Linked DNA regions of Homo sapiens. The protein of the gene in region 1 interacts with the protein of each later gene in a pairwise test. Each region holds a gene or a part of one and is shown in the gene's direction. Other genes may lie near its edges.

Region 1 (7,027 bases):
CTGAAAAATTCCTTTTAAATGTTAGTGACAGTAAGGTTTTTCTCTCTGAATTACAGAGCTTGCTGTGATTGCTTTTTTGTTGTTTTATTGTTGTTTGCTGCCACTGTCTTTAAGTCTAGAGCTAAAATTATTGTTTGATTAAGGTAGCCATATTTGGTTAGATTTTTGCTAGATTCCTACTTTGGGTGAATTTGATCTGTTTTTTTCTTGTAATGATTTTATGTTTGAGGTCTCTCAGATACCTTTGGAACCAGGCAGGGTTTGCTACTTAAGAGAACTGGTGGCATCAAACTGGAGACCTAGGAAAGATATATTTGTACTTTAGGTAAAATAGACTTGATAGTCTACATGTAGTAAAGGTTTTGTTGAATGGTCCAGATAATATCTGTTTCATTTAGCATCAGAATGCAGTAAATCAGAATCTTGCAAATGGTAAAATTGTGCTTAATTTAAAAAAATAATGTTTTGTTTTCTAATGTTGTTTTCCATGTCAATTTAAAATTCTTCTAATATATGGTAATTCAGGAAAGTTTCTTTGCTCTTGTTGATAATGGTCCCAAAAGATATCTTCCATATAGAAAATACACTGACCATTCTCTTTCGTCCCCCCTCCACATAAAAATGCATGTTAAAATTTACAATTATACAGACTTTTAAAAATATAATTTAAGAAGCGAAGAGCATCAGCAAACTATTGTAAGTCGTCCTCTGTGCATAGGGTTGGAAAATTTTTTTAAATCCATACCTATTTTGTCACTATCTTTAAAGCGTTTGATCATGGCTATGAATGGTTTGGAAATTTGCAGACAAGATAAACCTTACTGAACCAAGCTCTAACCCTGGAGACATCGAGCTGCCATTCAGCTTTTTCTTTTGTTCCTTTCATGAACTCTTCTCTGTAACCCACTTCTTGCTGGGAATGGATTTGCAGCTTCCCTTTCAGTCATATTTTCCCTAACGTTGAAATGTTTCCCATTAATAAAACAGGTGTAAGTATTTTTGCTGAACCATTTCAAAGACATTGCAGACATTGGGACTGTTGTACCTAAATATTTGAGCTTACTTCTCAAGAGATAAAAATACTGTTCTGTGAAACCACAATACTATTATCACATTTTACAAAATTAATAATTCCCTGGTGTCTTTAACACTCTGCCTGAATTGTCTGCAAAAATGTCTTTTATAACTGGTTATTCAGCCAGAGACCAATCGAAGACCCCGAGTTAAATGCGTTTGTAACGTGTATTTAAGGCTTAAGGCTTAGCCATTTGCTCACTTTATGATCTAAGGCAGTTTACTTTCATATGTCATGTCAGTTTTATATGGAGTGGACAAAATGGGAATAGACACTACCTATTTTGTGGAGCTGCTGTGAGAATTAAATGAGACAGCCTACGTAAAGCTTATAGTACAGGGCTAGGCATAAAACAGGTGCCCTATGTGGCTCTTTGCAGGGCACTGAGATAGATTTCTTTCAGGCTGAGCTTCATTTTCAGATAACCCTGTGAAGAAGGTATTACCCCCATTTAACTGATGAGAAAGCCAAGGTCAAGTTAGTTGCCCGAGACAGCAAACATTTTTTTAAAGCACTTTATTCATTTAGTCTTCTTAAAAATCCTGCGAGGTAGTTGGTATTATTATCCCTATTATAATAGGGAGAAGTGAGGCACAGAGAGGTGAAGTCCTTTCCTCAAGGTCATCCTGTGAGTAACTGAAGGAGCTGGGAATGGAGCACTCCAGTAGCCTGGTTCAGGAAGGTCTCTGTGCTCTTAACTAACCACTATGAACCATTGGGGTGGTCCAGCCTCAGTCGTTCTGACTCAGAGCTCGCAGCCTTTCTGCCAATCATGCTTGTTCATTATTCTTCTGAACTGGTGACAATCTGTCATTGCCATCATTTTTCTCACTTCACTTATCTTCCCAGAAAATGCTGTGAAGCATGAGGGGCATACTGAATTAAAATGGATTTAAATAAATTTGGGCTTGAGAATTCTGTGATACACCTCAAAGATAATGGGAGTAGTGCAAATTCAGAGTTGGTTATTATTGGAATGTTAGATCTATGTTAACTGAAATAACAGTTGTGGAAATTAAACCGATACAGTGAGTATTGATCCATTTTCTTTGTGTTTGCCTTAAAAAGGGAGGTATGTTTCTACCAGGGGGTATGGTTCTACTATACATGAGTAGAACCCTTAAATGTTAAAAATATGGAGTTGACTGTGCAGAATTAGAATCTTGATTTATTCCTCAGAAAATCCCCACACTACTGGAGACCCAGGCCTGGAGGATGATAGCTTGAGGCCAGGAAAACCAGCCTGGGCAACACAGTGAGACCCTGTCTCTACCAAAAAAATAAAAAATAAAAATTAGCCGCGTGTGGTAGCGCACACCTGTAGTCCCAGCTACTCAGGAGGCTGAGGGGAGAGGATGGCTTCAGGCCAGGAGGTCGAGGCTGCAATGAGCTGTGATCGTACCACTGCACTCTAGCCTGGGCGACAGAGTGACACCCTGTCTCCAGGAAAAAAAAATCTTAAAAGTAAGAAAAAACAAAAAAAACCTGAAAAGACCTTAAGGAGCTTGTAAGCTAGGACCTGTCATAGTATAAACTTAAGTGCCTAGTGCAAGGCTGAACAGCTAGTGAGGTGGTAGACCTGGAGTGGACTAAGCTCCATCAGCTGGTTGTGGTCTGGGTTTGTTTCCATGGGAATATTAGCAAATGCAACCTCCTTTCTAACTAAAGCTGGTCCCCTCTGCTTTCCTGTCCTTTTATCCAGTACAATATATACAAAGTGGATCAGTAGCAATACCCAAAACTGTTTTGCCTTAGCAATTTGCTTACTCTTGCTTTTATTCTGAAATTCTCTTCTTTCTTCCTTCACTTCTCCAGTAGGTGACATTCTGCTCATGCCCCCAGCCATCTCTGAGCCATTGCGTTTGGGTGGTCCTTTTTGACTTTCCCACCATAACCCCCTCCTCCCAGTCAAAATCAAGTCAAAGTCAAAATGCAAGTCAAAATCAATGTCTGTGTGTATTATTTTTTTCCCTACATTACATGGCAATTATTATTTCAAGTTGGGCTTATACCCAGCTAGATTCTGCATCCGAATTTGAGTTTTTTGGATTCAAGGTTACTTCTCAAATGCCTAGTTTTCTAGTTGTTGGCCCAACACCATTGGGCACATTGTGGTTGCTTAATGTCTATTGAATAAAATAATGGATTTAATTATTTTAAAGTGCTGTTTCATCCCTACTGACTAATGCAATAATTACAATTGTTGTATTTGGTTAACTTAGGGTATATATATATATAAGCCTCCTGAGAAACTCAACCATGTTCACATTGAGCCTCTGGTATTTTGTGGAAATTCCATGCAGAACTATCTGGTGGTAGTGATCTGTCATTGGTAACTCAAAACCCATTTTTATTCCATTCATTGTTGCGAGAACTGACAAGTAAAAAATCTTGACCACAATAAGACAGGGCCTGTTTCTATGCCTCTGTAGGAGAATCTCTGCAGAAATCACAGTATTAACAATTTTCAATAGCTGCAGGGTTCTGCTGGAGTCTTAACACTTGAGGGTGGATACAGCTGTGCTGATGAACTCCAATATTGGCATCATTCTTGTATTGCCGGCTGAACACAAATACAGTCTAACAGCAAAATTTTCAGAAATTGAACAAGTGATAATAGAGGCAGACCAGAAAGTTTTGGTGTATGTGATTATTTGTTTGGGCTTGTTTTTACTAAGGTAAATTAGGCCGAGTTTTTTAAAAAGACCCCGTCATCTCAATAAACTTGATAACTTATTCTTAGAAATATTTAAAAATTACTATTTAAATCTAGAACATTGTGATGGTGCTTTTAAGGCATTTTCTAGGGCTCTTAGTGACTTTGAAGTAGAAGAAATATTTTGTATTGATGCTCCAGTGCCCCGTGGAACAAAATATATTTTTTATATGCTTTCCCTGGATAGACATGAAGGATTGTTACATCTTGACATATGTCCCATGTCATGGAAAGAAAGTCAGGCCAGGATCATGGGAGTTTGCTAAATTAAGTAACAATTGTTTCATAACTACCCATTTCCCTTTCTCATGTAACCTTTATCAACATTATGTTCACATGTGGCATATTGCACACGTATTATCAAATTGTGCTTATGTTCTTCCTGCTACTCTCAAAGGGTAGTTGAATATTTATTTAAAAACAAACTTTCTGTGTTTACTTGCACTTAGAGGGTAAAGGTAAAGAAACAGATTTTGACTTCACCCTTAGCATTTAACACTTGTGATTGAAGAGATTAGAACAAATATTGGGAGCTTCTAAAATGTATGGTTTTGGCTCCTCTGTGTCCTGAAATAACGATTTTTCAGATCTGGTTGTTTTTATTCTTTGATATATTTCCTGTGGTCCATTTATAAATGCTTAAAACTTAATTATCAGTTAAGTTTTTAATTGACTTTCATTTGTTCATCTGGTAATGACATCTTTGTCTTTTCATTTTCATTATTTATTCCTCTTGTTTCTTTTTCTTACTGCTTTGCTTTGGCTCTGGCCTCCAGTACTGACTTTTCAGATACGCACTGTTTATTTTGTATTTGCATCCATACTAACTGAGAATGCACAGAGAAGCTTGGCCCATCTGTCTTTCTAGGTGTGGGAATAGGTTTGTTTGTTTGTTTGTTTGTTTTTGAAACAGACTCTTGATCTGTTGTCCAGGCTGGAGTATTCCAAGTGATCCTTCTGCCTTGGCCTCCTGAGTAGCTGGGATTGTAGGTGTGCGCCACCACACCTGGCTAATTTTTAAATTTTTAGTAGAGGTGAGGTCTTCTTAACGTTGCCCAGGATGGCCTTCAGCTCCTAGCCTTAAGCAGTCCTCCTGTCTCGACCTTCCAGAGTGCTGGGATTATAGGCATGAGCCACCTGCACCTGGCATGGGAATAGCTTTATCTTTTATTTTTATTACTTTTTTTTTAGAGATGGGGTCTTGCTCTGTTGCCCAGGCTGGAGTGCAGGGGTGCAATCATGGCTTACTGGAGCCTTGAACTCCTGGGCTCAAGCAGTGCTCCCATCTCAGCCTCCCAAGTAGCTGCGACCACAGGTGTACACCACCATGCCCTTTGAGAATAATTTATTAACCCTCATACCCATGGCCTGGCAGAACACTGAGCACATAGTAGGCTTTCTGTAAACAGTTATCAATTGGTTGAAGTAACTATTCATTAATTGAAAAAATAATTGTACCGTGTATAAAAATTTAACAATTTTTCACAATTTAACAATTATCTTTTTTGGATACCTATATCCAAAAAAGACTTTGAGTTGCTTTTTCAAAACTACTAAAGGAGAGGCTGCCATGATGGTAGTGGAAGAATCATGGACTTTGGAGTGAGACCGTACCTCTTCCCCTGCCACTAAGGGACCCTGCTAAGTATCCCAAGCCACCAGCCCTGGATTAATGTAAATGAGGTTCATTCTGCTGTATACCTAATAGGCTGTTAAAAAGTAGAAATGGACCAGGCATGGTGGTTCATGCCTGTAATCCCATCACTTTGGGAGTCCGAGGTGGGCCGACCACCTGAGGTCAGGAGTTCGAGACCAGCCCAACCAAGATGGAGAAACCCCATCTCTACTAAATATACAAAATTAGTTGAGCATGCTAGCACATGCCTGTAATCCCAGCTACTCGGGAGGCTGGGGCAGGAGAATCGCTTGAACCTGGGAGGCGGAGGTTATGCCAAGCAGAGATCGTGCTAAGCAGAGATTGCACCATTGCACTCCAGCCTGGTCAACAAGAGCAGAACTCCATCTCAAAGAAAAAAAAAAAAAAGCATAAATGAGGTAGCCTTGGTAAAACATTTTAGCACAGCACCTGAGAAATTGAGATTCAGTAGCATCCATCTACCCCAGGTCTGTCCCCCATCATGTAATAAGGTGTTCTTTCTTTTCAGAATTTACAAGGCAGAGGAGATCCATGAACTTTACAAGGCAGGAAACAAGATTTTCACTTTGTACCTTAGAGAGCTGAAATGACTTGCTCAAGGCTCCTCAGGGAGCTTGTGGGAGGATAATTAGGATTTAGAAGTCATGTTCTAAGACTGACTGTTTCTTTTGGCTTTCTAATGGTGTCCTGGTAGTTTTTGTACTGTGATAATCAATAATGCCCAGCTGACCATTGGCCCCTTTACTCAGTGATCCCAGTTGGCTGTGCTTTTTGAGATTCTGAGTTTTATAGCTTGTCTGTTCTCTTAGGGTAAGAGTACCTACCTGTAATAGCATCCTTGGCTCCCCTGCCATCCCTACGCCATTCCTGATATGTGGTCTAGATACCTTATTACCAGCAGCATTCAAATTCTCTCTAAAACAAAAGTCAGTAGGCTTGGTGTGGATGGGTGGGACTGACCATCCTCTTAGGAGTCACTTGGCTTATGACATGTTTTGTCTACTTGAATGCCATGTTTGGCATTTCATTTTATTTTTCCAGCCAAGGAATAAAGTGGACGATGGAGTGGGAATACAGACATAGTGCTAGACTAGAGGTTTAATTTATCAACATCCCAGTAATTTTACTCATTTTTATAGATCTTTTAAAGCAGCGTAAGTGTGACTATAGTCTTAATATAGTTATTACATTTCTCCCTTTTGCTTAAAGGTTAAGTCAAGTTTGATTTTTTTCTCAGGCTCAGACTCGCAAAGCAAATCTGCCTTGCTAGAATGATGTGCCTGGGCTCAACAGCTCACCTCTGGCCCTGAAGGCCTAATAATTGGTTGCCTTCTCATTGATCTGTGTGTGAGCACACTTCAGAACAGTACTCTGCTGTTTGTTAAAATAAAAAACAACAACAAAAAACCTTTGAAGACCTTACCGTCCATTCTAAGATGTCTTTTGTACTAAGGAAAATTGGGGATACTAGATTATAGGTGTTGATTTGGAGTGTGATATACTGTGAATCGGAATAACTTGAATTTAGAATGTACTTAGGCCCCAGTTGCAAAATTATGTGTAAATTATTGTATTGGAT
Region 2 (7,027 bases), on another chromosome or scaffold:
TGTTCTCCACTGGCCTGAGACAATGCCATCCTCCCTGGGCAGGCATCCTCCCTCCCGCCCCAGCCAGCCTTCGGGTGGCAGAGCAACACACCTGACTTCAGGTGGTTGCATGTGTTTCCCCTCTCCCACACTTGTCTTTTTGCCACTCCTCTTCCCCCTTCCCCCTTCCCCTTTCCCCCAGCCCTCATTTGAAACCCTGAGCAGAATTTTCTGGCTTCTCCCCAAGAAGCTGTTCACTCCATTGCCCTGAATTCTGCAGCTGACAAACATCTATTGTCACCTCTGGTCCACTGGCATGCTTCTCTACCCACCCCATTGGGCTGTGGCTTCCTTCAGAGCAGGCTCTGTTTCTCCATCGTCTCTGAGTCCAGCCCAGGATCTGACTCACATGAACTGCCCAGGAAACATGGAGTTTTGGAGCATTGATCTGAGACTCCCAGGTCCAAAGACACTCCTTAGCACAGGGCCAGAAGTCCAGGAGAGTCTGGGGAGGATCCCTGGGGGGTTGAGATGTCTGAGCTGCGATTTCCTGCTTTATTCCTTTTTACCCACTGCTGATTCCCTGTTAGCCAGGCTAAGTCACAGCGCACTGTCAGAGCCTGGAAGAAGGGGAGCAGTGTCTGGCAGAGGATCTAGCCAGACTTGTGGGCCCTTTTGGCCAGGTCACTAACTGGGCTGGGCTTTCTGTAGGTGCTCACCCACCCATCACACAGACCACCCCCCCCACCGCAAGAGATGGAAGAACAAGATCAGCTGGGTTGGGGGCCCAGACCTGGCTCACTGGGGTTGGGCAGGGCAGTCTGGGATGCTGTCCAGATCCATCCTCGCATCATTCCCCAGGGCAGGAGCAGCCCGTAGTTGGCACTGACACCCCACTGTTGCCAGAGAAGTGAACCCTAGAGGCAGGATCAGACAGGCAGAGGGCCGTCATTCATCCATCAGCAGCAGGGGCAGAGAAGGAGGTGCTTTTAAGGGGCCCATTCACTCTGCAGCCTATGGGGAGGAACCCTTTACTGTCTCATGGAAACTCATCACTGCACAAAGAAGCCCCTGAAGGAAGGTGCCTCACTGTCTACCAGTGTGTCCCAGGAACCATATTGCAGAATTCTGGTCATTAGGGCAGCAATGAATTATGTCTCTTATCCAAAGCCATCTTTTATCCTTCCAAATCTCTCCACAAGAGTACACCCTTCAGGTCCGGAGATCAGCTAGATTCTGGAGCCCCAGCTGAGAACAGTTTATAAATTAAGACTGACCAGGAGACAACAATATCAATAACAGGACTATTTCATCTTAGATCTATCCTTTATGGCTTAAAAGCACTTTCACGTACATTAGCTCTTTAATCCTATGAAAGGCAGGGTTTGCTACCCCCATTTTACAGGAGAAGAAACTGTACAATTTAAGCAATATTATTATAAGTTCTGCCTTCCTATTGTCACTGGCCAAGTGAGGGACAAGAAGAGGAAACGAATGGAAAAGGGAGTGAAAGGGAAGGGAGAGAACGACCCAGGAGAAAGAAGCAGAGTGGACATGGAAGACTGATTTTAGCTCCTAGTCTGCCATCAGATTTGTATGTGACCTTGGACCAGCTGCTCCACTCTCTGGGACTCAGTTTCCTCATTCATAAATGGGAAGTCACAAAATTGAAGCCACACAGAAGCCTTCTGTGGTGAACGCTGCTGGTGAACTGAGAGGCACAGCATGCGTATAGAAGGGTGGAGTTGGGGGTTCTTCCTAGACTCTAGCCACACTTTGGGGCCCCCAAAGAATATGGGTTTCCTCTTGGGAATTCCTCTGGAAGTATAAGATAGCGAGGTCATAACATTTTAGATGTGCCTATTTGAGGCCAGTTGTTCCCCCATTTAATTCTCTCTGTGTTCCTCTCAGGTAGGAATTGTTATTTATGTCCTATGGATGAGGAGCAGAGGCTTGGAGAGATTCGGAGAGGAAGGACATCCACTGCATCCCCACCCCTGCCCCTAACACCCACATGAAACAAAATTCCCTGCCTGGGTTTTATAAGTAGGAGGGACTTATAAGAAGCTCAGGGCATGAATCATCTTCTGAGGAACCCTCTTTTAGAATTCTAGTCATTAGGGCAGCACTGAATTATGTCTCTCATCCAAAACCATCTTTTATCCTTCCAAATCTCTCCCTAAGAGTGCCCCCTTCAGGTCCAGAGATCAATCAGATTCTGGAGCCCCAGCTGGGAACAATCTCTAAATTAAGAGTCACCAGCAGCCAACAATATCAATAACAGGACTATTTCATCTTAGATCCATCCTTTATGGCTTAAAAGCACTTTCATATCTATTTTCTGTTTGATCCTATGAGAGATAGGGGTTACTACTCCCATTCTACAGAGGAAGAAACTGAGGCACAGAGGGAGGCTGATTTGCCCAAGTTTGCAGAGCTGGTCAGTGGCAGGGTCAGGGTAGAAACCCAGGTCTGTCTGATGCCAATATCACCGTATTTTCCTCTGCACTTTATCCCTTTCTGGGGACAGAGCACAATGAGGTCAGGGACGCCAAACAGGAACTTCCTAAATTCATAATTTTGCTGAGCTGAGCCCTAGAAATGGAGGGGTCCCAGGGTAGAGAACAACACAGGGGCAGAACAATACAGATACTAGGGACCAACTTGGGGACAGGCATGGGGCGCACATACTAGAGGCACAATGCCTATGAACCCTTTCTTCCAGGGGCTGCCCAAACTGCCCGTGCCCCCGCTGCAGCAGACCCTGGCCACGTACCTGCAGTGCATGCGACACTTGGTGTCTGAGGAGCAGTTCAGGAAGAGCCAGGCCATTGTGCAGCAGTTTGGGGCCCCTGGTGGCCTCGGCGAGACCCTGCAGCAGAAACTCCTGGAGCGGCAGGAGAAGACAGCCAACTGGGTAAGAGGGGCAGACAAGGAACCCATAGAAGAGGGGCGGGAGGCAGACCTGGAGACAGAGGGATCTCGGTGAGAGGCAGGTAGGGGACAAAGACAGGGCAGAAGGAGAGATGAGGGACAGGGATGGGGGATAGGTGTGGGAACAGGCAGGTGGCATGGATTGGAGGACAGGAAGGGACAAGGATGAGAAACAAACAAGATGAGGAATGGGAAATACGGATAGAGAAAGAGGCGGACAAATCGGGGACAGGAATTGGGACAGATGAGGACAGAGATCGCATTAGGAAAGAAGAGAGGGTGAAAGGCAGGAAGAAGACACCTGTAAGGACAGGCAGAGGACAGCGATGTAGCACCAAGCCACCAGGATGGGGACTGGGACAGAAGAAAGGAGACAGGAGGGCACAAAGGTGAAGGACAGGCCTGGTGGACTGGGAAGCTCCTGGCACATACCTGGGGCTTAGCATATATTTGTGGAATGAATGAATTAATGCTCTGGTGAAGTGTCCCGATTTTCTCTCGGGGCTGTCAGGATGGGACTGTTTGGGGGGATGTGACGGCCTTCCCTGCCCTCCCCGGCAGGTGTCTGAGTACTGGCTGAATGACATGTATCTCAACAACCGCCTGGCCCTGCCTGTCAACTCCAGCCCTGCCGTGATCTTTGCTCGGCAGCACTTCCCTGGCACCGATGACCAGCTGAGGTGAGGCCTTGGTGCTCCTAGCTCATAACCTGGGGACCCACCCAAGGCAGGGGCCCTTACCCCAGTGCCAGCAAAGAAAGGCCAAAGCTGGAGCCTCGGCTGAGCTTCCTGGGGTCAAATGCCCCGAGACAGTGGACGTCCAGGCCATCAGGTGGGGAGCAAGGTTAGGTGTGGCTGCACTCGAGTGACAATCACACAATTAGCCTTAGTCTATATTTATCTTGCAGTGGAATGGACACTCATGGAGGTCATGGGTCCAAATATCCCCACAGCCTCCACCTGGCTGAGGCCCTGGGAGGAGGCGTGTGTCCCTGGACCACGCCAGTACTTGTCCCTGGGAAACACTGCCCCAGGCTGTCTGAGAGGGCCTCTGCTTCCTTCCAGAGCCCCCAGCTCTAAACAGAGGCCCCAGAAGGCTGGAAACAATTCCTCCCTGCCAGCAGCCAGAGCCTGTGCCATCTGCTGTAATTTCAGAGCTCACTGAGCCGTTGGAAGGGCCTCTGGCCGCTAATGACAATGGAGGATGGGTGCAGGGAGAAAGGGTTTCCCTTCTGGAGTCACTCAGAGTCTGGTCTTAAGACCTGAGTGGGGCAAATGGTGGGGACGGTTTAGAGGGAGGGCAGACCAAAGTGGCCCGAGGACAAGAGGCAGGGCCCACCTCTCCTCTGGGCAGGGCTTAGCCATGCTAGGAAGACCTCCCCACCCCACCCTACCAGCTGGCCAGCCTTCCCTCCCACTGTAGCTGGGGTCTCCCCAGGGAAGAAGGAAGGTGTGGACAGATGAATGACTTCTGAAAACAGTTCTCACAATTGCATCTGAGGGGGTATTTTCCTCCTGGTGCAATTAAGCCAGGCCCAGAATCCTGGTATGACAGTTCCCGCTGCTCGTTTCTCCAGTGCCTTTCCCCAAGCACTCGATTTCCTTTTCATTAGTACCGGGGGGTGGGAGGAAAGGGACCAAATTACTGGCTTTTCCCAGGAGAAAATTTTCCACAAGGCCAGGGGTCCTGCCCTGTCCAGACCCAGGGCTGGCTTTTCCAAGGAAGAACTCCACCCTTCACCCTCCACCCCTTCTGGCCTGCTCTGTGGCCTCTCCTAGCTTCCGTCTCCCTCTCTGCTCCCTCTCCTCTTCAAGATGATTCCAGTTTCCTCTCCCTTCCCCAAGAGCTACTCGACCCCCAGTTCTCACCAAAGGACCATTTTGAATCCAAGGCTTGTGGTGGGCTCTCGGCATGGGGCTGGGGGGCAAGAACCACATCTGATTAGTGCAGGAACCACATCTGATTAGTGCACACGGGGGCGGCATACAATGGGCGATCACAGAGTTTGGCAGTGGGGATGAGGGAGGGAGGAGGGAGGGAGAAGGGAGGGAAGAGGAAGGAGATGGAAGGAAGAGGGAAGGAGGGAGGGGAGGCAGAAGGGAGGGAGGGAGGGAGGAAGCCAGGCCCTGGGAGGAAGGGCTCAGGCCTCCCTTCTCCCTGCAGGTTTGCAGCCAGCCTCATCTCTGGTGTACTCAGCTACAAGGCCCTGCTGGACAGGTAGGACTGGGAGGGTGGTGCCCTGTTCCAGCACAGTCTGCCTATGCGTCTATCTCCCTTGCAGGGACCTTGTCTTTTTCCAGCTCTGTATTCCCATTCCTGGCTCCTGGCACAGAGCAGATGTCCCTGCCCCAACCCACTCCCCCACCATCAGGATGACCTTTAGCCTGGCTGGCCTGTCTGTTAACTGTTCCTTTTCCTGTGGCAAGCACCATCCTTCCTTGATCTTTTAAAAATGTCTCCTCCCTCCACACATACGTGCACAGGTGGAGTGAATTCACTTGAAGCTGGAGAACACATAGGAAGGCGGGGAAGGAAGAGTTGTTAGAGTAAGGTGATGGGAGTTCTGCTTTGCCACTTGGAGGAATGGTGTCTCCAGCGGGAGACTGTATCCTCAATCCCACCAAGCTCAGTGGACATGAGGCTGTTCTGACAGATGGAGAGGGCTGCTCAAGCACCGCAGGCTCTCTTTGATTTTAGGAAGAAAGTCCCTCTCCTGGCCAAGCTTAGGAGAGCAGGAGGGTGTCTGAGAGCAGCAGGGAGAGTAAGCGGGTCTGGAGGACCCAAGTCTCTCAAGGTAGAGACTATAAGGGCATTAGAAGCTGGAAGGAGAGAGAGAGGCCCAAAGAAGCATCCCTTGCACAGATGAGGAAGCTGCAGCTCAGAGAGGTTAAGTAACTCATCCATGGTTACACAGCCAGGTGGTGGCAGAGCAAGGAGGGGGCAAGGGGCAAACTTCACTCTTTGTTCAACTTGACTCAATTCAGTCTTTACCCAGCCTTGGGACAGAGGCTCAGACCCACAGCCCCTTCCAGGGTAGGGCTGTTCCCTCTGGAGAGGGGCAGGCAGAGCTCCCAGACTGTCAGGGTGGAGCAGTTCAGGCTGTCCAGGGCATTCTGCACCACACGCTCCTGTGTGCTCTGCTCACTCCTCTCTAAATGCCATGGGTCACTAGGCCCTGGGCTGTTGTCTCCTCATGGTGTGTCTTTGGTCTCTCCCTTCTTCGTGGACAGCATTCTATTTCCTCCCAGAACTCGCCCCTCCAGCTCACCGTCCTGTCTGTTTTCAAACACCATTGTCTTGCTGGGCCTGGGGACTTGGTGCCCATTCATCACTGACTGCCCCCACGAGACCACTTTCCTTCTGATCCCAGACTTTCACATGTGTGTGCACACTCACACAGACACGAATACCCATGCATATCCACGTGGAGGTTCCCATGTCCAATGATTGAAAAGGACTTAAGACTGGAACATTTTCCTGAGTGCCTGTTTTGAACCTTTAATTAATTAATTAATTAATTTACTTATTCACTTTGCAATGTAGTTATGCTGGGAAGAGGAAGAGAAATAAGGCCTCATCCTCCCCTCAAAATGTCCTTAGACTATTGGGCAAGACAGTCACTTAAACAGACACAAAATACAGCTGTGTCCCTTCCCCTGAGTCCCACACTCGCTCATCCAAGCCTCAGCCATCCCCACCGGGGTGTCTCTCAGTCATTACAAATGAGCCAGGAGAGCTTCGCCTCTCCCTCCCCATTCCCCAACTCCTCCCATACCTTGTCGAGCCATGTCCGTAAGTGCACCAGCACATGCCCTGTTGGTGAGTCTGGGAACCTAGAAGTCACCTGTGCTTGTTCTGCTTTCTCCCTTGCACCTTCATGTAACCCATGGTGCTCAGATGTGGTCATTCTCCCTCCCCACTGTGTCCCCAAGCTCCCTCCTCCTTCCCTGCTGCCCTCACAAGACATCACGTTCCTTCTCTGCCACAACCTCCTTCCTTGTTCTTCCTGTGACACCTTTCAGTCCATTCTCCCCATATAAGCAGGGTCAGTAAAACAACAAAATGGAAACCCAGTCATGCCCCTGCGTGCTAAAGCCTCCCAAGGGCTTTCACT
Region 3 (7,027 bases), on another chromosome or scaffold:
ATGTTGAGGGTCAAGAACTGGCACATTGTAGGTGCTCAGTTAATGTTACTTCTTTTTTCTCTACCAGAAGAAAGGGAAGTGTTACACATTTATTTTGGTTTTGGTGACTGATTTAAAACTTATGTGGGTTTTAATTTAGTGGAATAGGATCTTGCAGGAACAAATTTCATTTCACTTTTTATCTTCCAATTTAATACTCTCACACAAAAACAGTTTTTCACTTTAGTATTTGTTAAGCAGATGAATTATTTGTGGGTAAAGAAATGAGCATTGCTTAAATCTCTTATTAGTATGCAAACTGCCCACTGTTAAAACCTTTCTTAGAGGATTATACAATTAGATAAACGCCTTTTTAGAGGTATTTTAGGTAAGATAATCTTACTTTTTAATGAATTAAATCATCCACTCATTTAGTTGGTCATTTAAACATTTGTTTGTCATGTTTGGGTAAGGAATTGTGCTGGAGTCTGTGTGAGACTTCAGGATATTTTTGGTGTTCAGTGAGAGGCAGTGTAGAATACTGGTTAAGAGCCAAAGTTGGCTGGGCGTGGTGGCTCACGCCTGTAATCCCAGGGTTTAGGGAGGCCGAGGCGGGCGGATCACCTGAGGTTCGGAGTTCAAGACCAACCTGACCAACATGGAGAAACCTTGTCTCTATTAAAAATACAAAATTAGCCATGCGTGGTGGCACATGCCTATAATCCCAGCTCCTCAGGAGGCTGAGGCAGGAGAATTGCTTGAACCCGGGAGGTGGAGGTTGCAGTGAGCCGAGATTGCACTCCAGCCTGGGCAACAAGAGCAAAACTCTCTTAAAAAAAAAAAAAATCCAAAGCTGTGGTGACAAACTGAAAATGTAGCTTCTGCAGCTTACTGTTATCATGGTCAAAGTACATTTTTCTCATTTGTAAAGTTGGGTTAATAGTGACACCTTTTACAGTTATTGTGAATATTAACTAGGCTAATGTTTATAAAGCAGTTTTCATAGACCTAGGCACATAGGCTGCCAAGCAAATTGTACCTTCTGAAGGCCCTGGCATATAGTGAATACTGAAAGGGAAGCTGCTGTTACTTTGTTTTCTTTTGAAATAGGTGATTATTTGTTTTATTGAAATGAAAGAAATTAAAGGCTCTTTGGATAAAGAAGAACTGATGATCAAGGGATTAGGGTACTAGTTCTAGCTCAGTGACCTTGAGCTAGTAGGTATTTAACTGGTCTCAGTTTTGTTGCTTTTAAGATAAAGTAGCTAGACTAGATGACCTCTAAGATTTCTTCAGACTCAAGTGTTCTGGTTTTAAATTGTGATTTTTCAATATAATCAACTTGAGCATCTGTCTACTAGGTACGTAGCATTGTGTTAGGTTATATGGGTTAAAATAACATAAAAAAGATAGCATATGTTTTCCAGAAGGTAAATAACTAGTTGGGAAGTTGTAGGCACGTGAAACACTGGACGATTCAAATAAGTACTGAATTAAGTAATGTAGCTTGTAAGTGGTGTCAGATTCCTGTCATTTAGAGTGGTTAGAAGAAAGGCTTCCGTAGAGGGACAGAGACCATATGTTGGTCTACTGGTCCAGCAGACTAGCCATGACCAGCTTCCATTTTACCTACTAGTACATCCTCAGTAAGTCATCTCAGCTCTTTGATAGAATGAGATCACAATATCCCCTTCTGCCACAGTATCACAGGGGCTATTTCAGAACCATCTGACTCAGAGCTTTGAACTGGATTGCCTAGATTATCTAGGGCTTTCATCTCTTTCTTTCTTCCTTTTTTCTCTATTTCAAAACTTCTGCTATTGCCTTTTTTTCTCATTTTCGTCTCTCTTTTTATGGTAACGTTTTTTATTTCACATTCATTTTATTATTTCTGATGATTTCTGTTTGAATATTAAATCAAACTATTGCTATTATCTACTGTCCTCACAGATTTCATAAAATCTACTTTTTGAAGCTTTTGGTTTTTTGCTTTAGTTTGAGATGGAGTTGCGCTCTTGTTGCCCAGGCTGAAGTGCAATGACGTGATCTCGGCTTACTGCAACCTCAGCCTCCTGCGTTCAAGCGATTCTCCTGCATCAGCCTCCCGAGTAGCTGGGATTACAGGTGCCTGCCACCACACGTGGCTAATTTTTTGTATTTCTAGTAGAGATGGGGTTTCACCATGTTGGCCAGGCTGGTCTGGAACGCCTGACCTCAGGTGATCCACCCGCCTCGGCCTCCCAAACTGCTGGGGTTACAGGCATGAGCCACCATGCTCGGCCATGAAGCTGTTCTTTAGTGAAAAGAATTTTGCCATTTTCTATTACTTTTTGCCCTATTATGTATATATTATATGTGTGTGTGTATATATATGTATTTGTACACATATAAGGTAATTCATTTGCTTTCAGAAAGCAGATACAAAATGACTTTGAAAGTTGTTTTTCTTCCCATAGGTTACCTGCAACTCTTTTCCTTCAAAGCACTTCTTTATGCAGTCACTAGGATTTGATGCCTTTTAAAAAATTCAGCAAAAATGTTATAGGTCATATAATAATAATCTAGATTTTAAAATAATGTATATTTTAAAATACTATATATTAAGCTTAGTAACTACTATGCTTAGTATAGTGACCACTGTTAAGCCCAGTAACCACTGAGCATTACTATTAAGCTTAGTAATCACTGAGTCAATAGATATAAAATTAAAATGTGATTAATTGGTGAGACTTCATGGATTGTGCTCAAAGCCAGAGTTGAAAATTACTGACCAAAAAATTGTTCTGGTTTTGAGAAATGTCATTTTCCTGATTCGGCTTGTTTTATTTTGTTCATTATTTTTATTTAATTTGGGAGGATCTCAAAAGTATTTATTAAGAGTGGACTGTGGAGTTGGTGGATATAAGAGTATATAGGTTAAAAGTGAGCAATGGTGTTAGGATTCAAATCTCAATTCTGCTCACTAGCTTGCAATCCTGGGCACGTTATTGAACTCTGCATCCCAATTTTCCAAACTAAAATGGGGGTATAATAACACCTACTTTATGAGGCTGTTGTGAGGATTAAGTGAGATAATACATGTGAAGTTCTGTGTCTGGCACTTAGTAAACAACAATAAGTGTTGGCTATTAATATTGTGGTAAAAAGTAGTACCTCAAATTGATAAACAATTGTAGTATGCATATATTAGAGTGGCTAAAATAATTAGTATTGGTTGTCTCTGGGGATTGAAGAGAAGATGGGCAGAGGACTTCTTATTATAAGCCCTTTTGCCCTATTTGATGTTTTTAAAGACGTGTGCTTTGCTACAAGGGAGTGTTTATTGAGAATCCAAGTATGGTCTTGACCCTTTGCTAGGCTCCGAAGTAATAACATTTACAAAATAACACATTGTAAAATGATGTAAGATTAACTGTAGACCTTCAGATACCTCAGGATAGATGAGGGAGAGTGTGTCTGTGTGTATTTTTTAAAATTAGAAATGATTCGTGGTCCTCCTTTCCTCCTAGAGAGGGTTGTAAGGGTATGTTAAGGTAGTCAGCATTGAACAGTTAAGGTGTCTTAAAATGCAGTGTGCTGGCCGGGCTTGGTGGCTTACGCCTGTAATTGCGGCACTTTGGGAGGCTGAGGCTGGCAGATCTCCTGAGGTCGGGAGTTCGAGACCAGCCTGACCAACATGGAGAAACCCCGTCTCTACTAAAAATAAAAAATTAGCCGGGCATGGGGGTGCATGCCTGTAATCCCAGCTACTCGGGAGGCTGAGGCAGGAGAATCGCTTGAACCTGGGAGGCAGAGGTTGTGAGCTAAGATCGTGCCATCCTGCCTGGGCAATGAGCAAAACTCCATCTCAAAAAAAAAAAAAAAAAAAAATGCAGTTTGCTTTTAACAGAACCCACAACAATTACATAATCCGAAAAGATGTTTCACTATTAAGGTTATGTAAAATTCTCTTTCAGCGCATTATCTGATTATAGTATTATTTTATGAATAGATTTTATTACAGATGGATAATTTAAGAGTAAAATCAAATATTTTAATTTTGGAATTTGAAAAATAATGATTCAAGACAATATTATATTTATAAAATACATAAAATTTGACCCAGTGGAATAATTATTTAGACCTAGGATAAAATATCTTCTTTTAAAATTTTCTTAAAGTGGAGCCACAGGCAGCTAATTTGAAAGTACAGTGAAACTTCAGCCTTCTGTGAATGAGATACTGTGAACTTAGTATCCTGAGTTACAGAGAATTAAACAATACTTTTTTGTTTTTGTTTCAATTCCTGTTGCAAATTTGCCAAATTATTTTCTAGGGTTAATACATACTAAACATAATAGAATCTTTCTTTGATAAATTAGAACATTATAGTGTCCTAGGATCATCTTTCTGATTATCGGTGATACTGTTAGGGATATGAAGATTATAACATTAACAGTACCTGAGACATTTTTTGTGTATATATGTCAGATGGCTTGCATTTTTATCAGTTGTTGTATTCTAGAAAAAAATGAAGTGAAAAATTACTTCTGATTGAGATGTTAGTATACCCTACCCTTGTTTAGTTTTTAAGAATAATTTTTCAATTATGAATACTCATTAATTTTTGAAGGATTTAATGAGGTATGAACAAAACTGGTGGTTACCAAAACTATCCCTATTCTCATGAAAAAAAAAAAAGTTCTTTGAGTTGAAGACAGAAGTTTCTTGTTGTGTAAGGATCCTCTTGTTGCAGATGTCAACAATCTTGTCTGAAACATAGTTGGGCAAAAAGGGGAATTTACTGTCTCAGATAACCTAAACTCAGGATGCAAGGATGCAGTTGAAATCAAACACAACTGGAACCTGAGCTGAGAATGCCACCAAAACTCTCTTATCTCTCCTCCTCTCTCCCTTTCAGCTTCATTTTCTCCAAATGCAGACCAGCTTCTTTCTTCCATGTAGCCGGGACATAGATGCCAGCAAATTATAAGTATGAGCTAGGCACTATCCTAAACAATTTTGCATGTATATTCATTCATTTAATCCTCACAGCTTTTTATACCTATTTTACAAATGAGGAAACAGAGGTATAGAGAGGTTAAGTAGTAATCCAGGTTGCCTGTTTTTATAGCACAATACAGTATGATAGAGATGATAGAGTTGGATTTGCTAGGCACTAGCTAGCTGTGGTTACAAATGGTCTCATTTGTGTTTTGTTTTTGAATTTTTTGAACAGACTTAATTTTTTAAGAGCAGTTTTATATTGGTAGCAAAATTGAGCAGAAAGTACGAAGAGTTCCCATATGCTCCCTGCCTGTACACATGCATAACCTCCCTCAGTATGGACATTCTACACTAGCGTGGTACACTTGTTATGGTAGATGAACCTACATTGATGCATCATTATCACCCAAAGGCCATAGTTTACATTAGGGCTCACTCTTCGTGTTGTGTATTCTATGGTTCTTAACACTTGTTTTTTTTTTTTTTTTTTGAGACGGAGTCTAGCTTTGTCGCCAGGCTGGAGTGCAGTGATACAATCTCAGCTCACTACAACCTCTGCCTCCCAGGTTCAAGCAGTTCTTCTGCCTCAGCCTCCTGAGTAGCTGGGATTACAAGCACGTGCCACCATGCCCAGCTAACTTTTGTATTTTTTTTTTTTTTTTTAGTAGAGACAGGGTTTCACTATGTTACCCAGGATGGTCTCAATCTCCTGACCTCGTGATCCACCCGCCTCGGCCTCCCAAAGTGCTGGGATTACAGGCGTGAGCCACCGCGCCCGGCCTTAACGCTTGTTTTTGTTTCTTTGGGAGAGGGATGGAGTTTTGCTCTTGTTGCCCAGGCTGGAGTGCAATGGCGTGATTCTTGGCTCACTGCAACTTCGCCTCCTGGGTTCAAGCAATTCTCCTGCCTCAGCCTCCCTCCCGAGTACCTCTACAAGCACGTGCCACCACGCCCTGCTCATTTTTTGTATTTTTAGTAGAGACGGGATTTCACCATGTTGGCCAGGCTGGTCTTGAACTCCTGACCTCAGGTGATCTGTCTGCCTCGACGTCTCAAAGTACTGGGCTTACAGGTGTCAGCCACTGCACCCGGCGAGGTTCTTAACACTTGTAAGAGTAATGTGTGTCCGCCATTATGTTGTCATGTAGAATAGTTCCATGGCCTTAAAAATCTTTGTTCTGCCTGTTCATATGTCCTTCCCACCAATCCCTGATTTTTTTTACTGTCTCTTTAGTTTTGTTTTTTCCAGAGTATCTTATAGTTGGAATCATGCAGTATGTTGCCTTTTGGATTGGCTTCTTTGACTTAGTAATATTCATTTAAAGTTCCTCCATGTCTTTTCATGGCTTCATAGCTCGTTTCTTTTTAGTGCTGAATAATATTTTATTTTCTGGGTGTATCAAATCCATTCACCCACTGAAGGACGTCTTATTGCTTCCAAGTTTTGTTCATTTACTTTTCACAGTAGTTCTGCAAAGTGTATATGTTGAGCTGTTTACAGATTAGGAAACAGATTCAAGAGAGGTGAAGTAGTTTACTCAGGTTCACATCATTAGAAAGTTGGCATAGTTTATATTAGAACCTAAACTCTGACTCCCAAGCCCATAATCCTTATATGTACTTTGCTGTATACATGAATAGGTCAAAATACAATTTATTTTTTACTTATTTTTTACAATATAGTAGAAAAACTTTATTAGAGTTAACTATCAGTTCTTCCTTGTTACTAAAGGAACTAGGGGAGGATTCATTTTTAGCAGTTGCTCTAAGGCCACTTCTTTTAGTAACCTTTTTACTTGAAATAATAAAACTACATTTCCATAAAAGTCCTTCTCTTTGAAATTTTCTTTTATTCAGTCTATTCTTTTGCTTAGTATACATTAATAAGGTAAAATATACTTCTGGCTGAGTGCGGTGGCTTGTGCCTGTAAATCCCAGCACTTTGGGAGGCTGAGGTGGGAGGATCGCTTGAGCCTAGCAATTCCAGACCAGCCTGGGAAGCAGTGGGATCCCTGTCTCTACAAAAAAATAAAAGAATTAGCTGGGTGTGGTGATGCATGCC

The links. Proteins that work in one complex are often made in the same cells at the same time.
Region 2: the proteins of SPRED2 (region 1) and CHAT interact in binary tests that used the Homo sapiens proteins (3 or more experiments, as listed by UniProt).
Region 3: the proteins of SPRED2 (region 1) and ZDHHC17 interact in binary tests that used the Homo sapiens proteins (3 or more experiments, as listed by UniProt).

The regions. Positions count from the first base shown.
Region 1 is NC_000002.12:65,422,581-65,429,607, reverse strand, and holds part of SPRED2 (sprouty-related, EVH1 domain-containing protein 2), read left to right. Parts: intron 1-7,027. UniProt on the Homo sapiens protein: Negatively regulates Ras signaling pathways and downstream activation of MAP kinases. Recruits and translocates NF1 to the cell membrane, thereby enabling NF1-dependent hydrolysis of active GTP-bound Ras to inactive GDP-bound Ras.
Region 2 is NC_000010.11:49,617,021-49,624,047, forward strand, and holds part of CHAT (choline O-acetyltransferase), read left to right. Parts: intron 1-2,704; coding exon 2,705-2,896; intron 2,897-3,474; coding exon 3,475-3,593; intron 3,594-5,076; coding exon 5,077-5,130; intron 5,131-7,027. UniProt on the Homo sapiens protein: Catalyzes the reversible synthesis of acetylcholine (ACh) from acetyl CoA and choline at cholinergic synapses.
Region 3 is NC_000012.12:76,767,099-76,774,125, forward strand, and holds part of ZDHHC17 (palmitoyltransferase ZDHHC17), read left to right. Parts: intron 1-7,027. UniProt on the Homo sapiens protein: Palmitoyltransferase that catalyzes the addition of palmitate onto various protein substrates and is involved in a variety of cellular processes.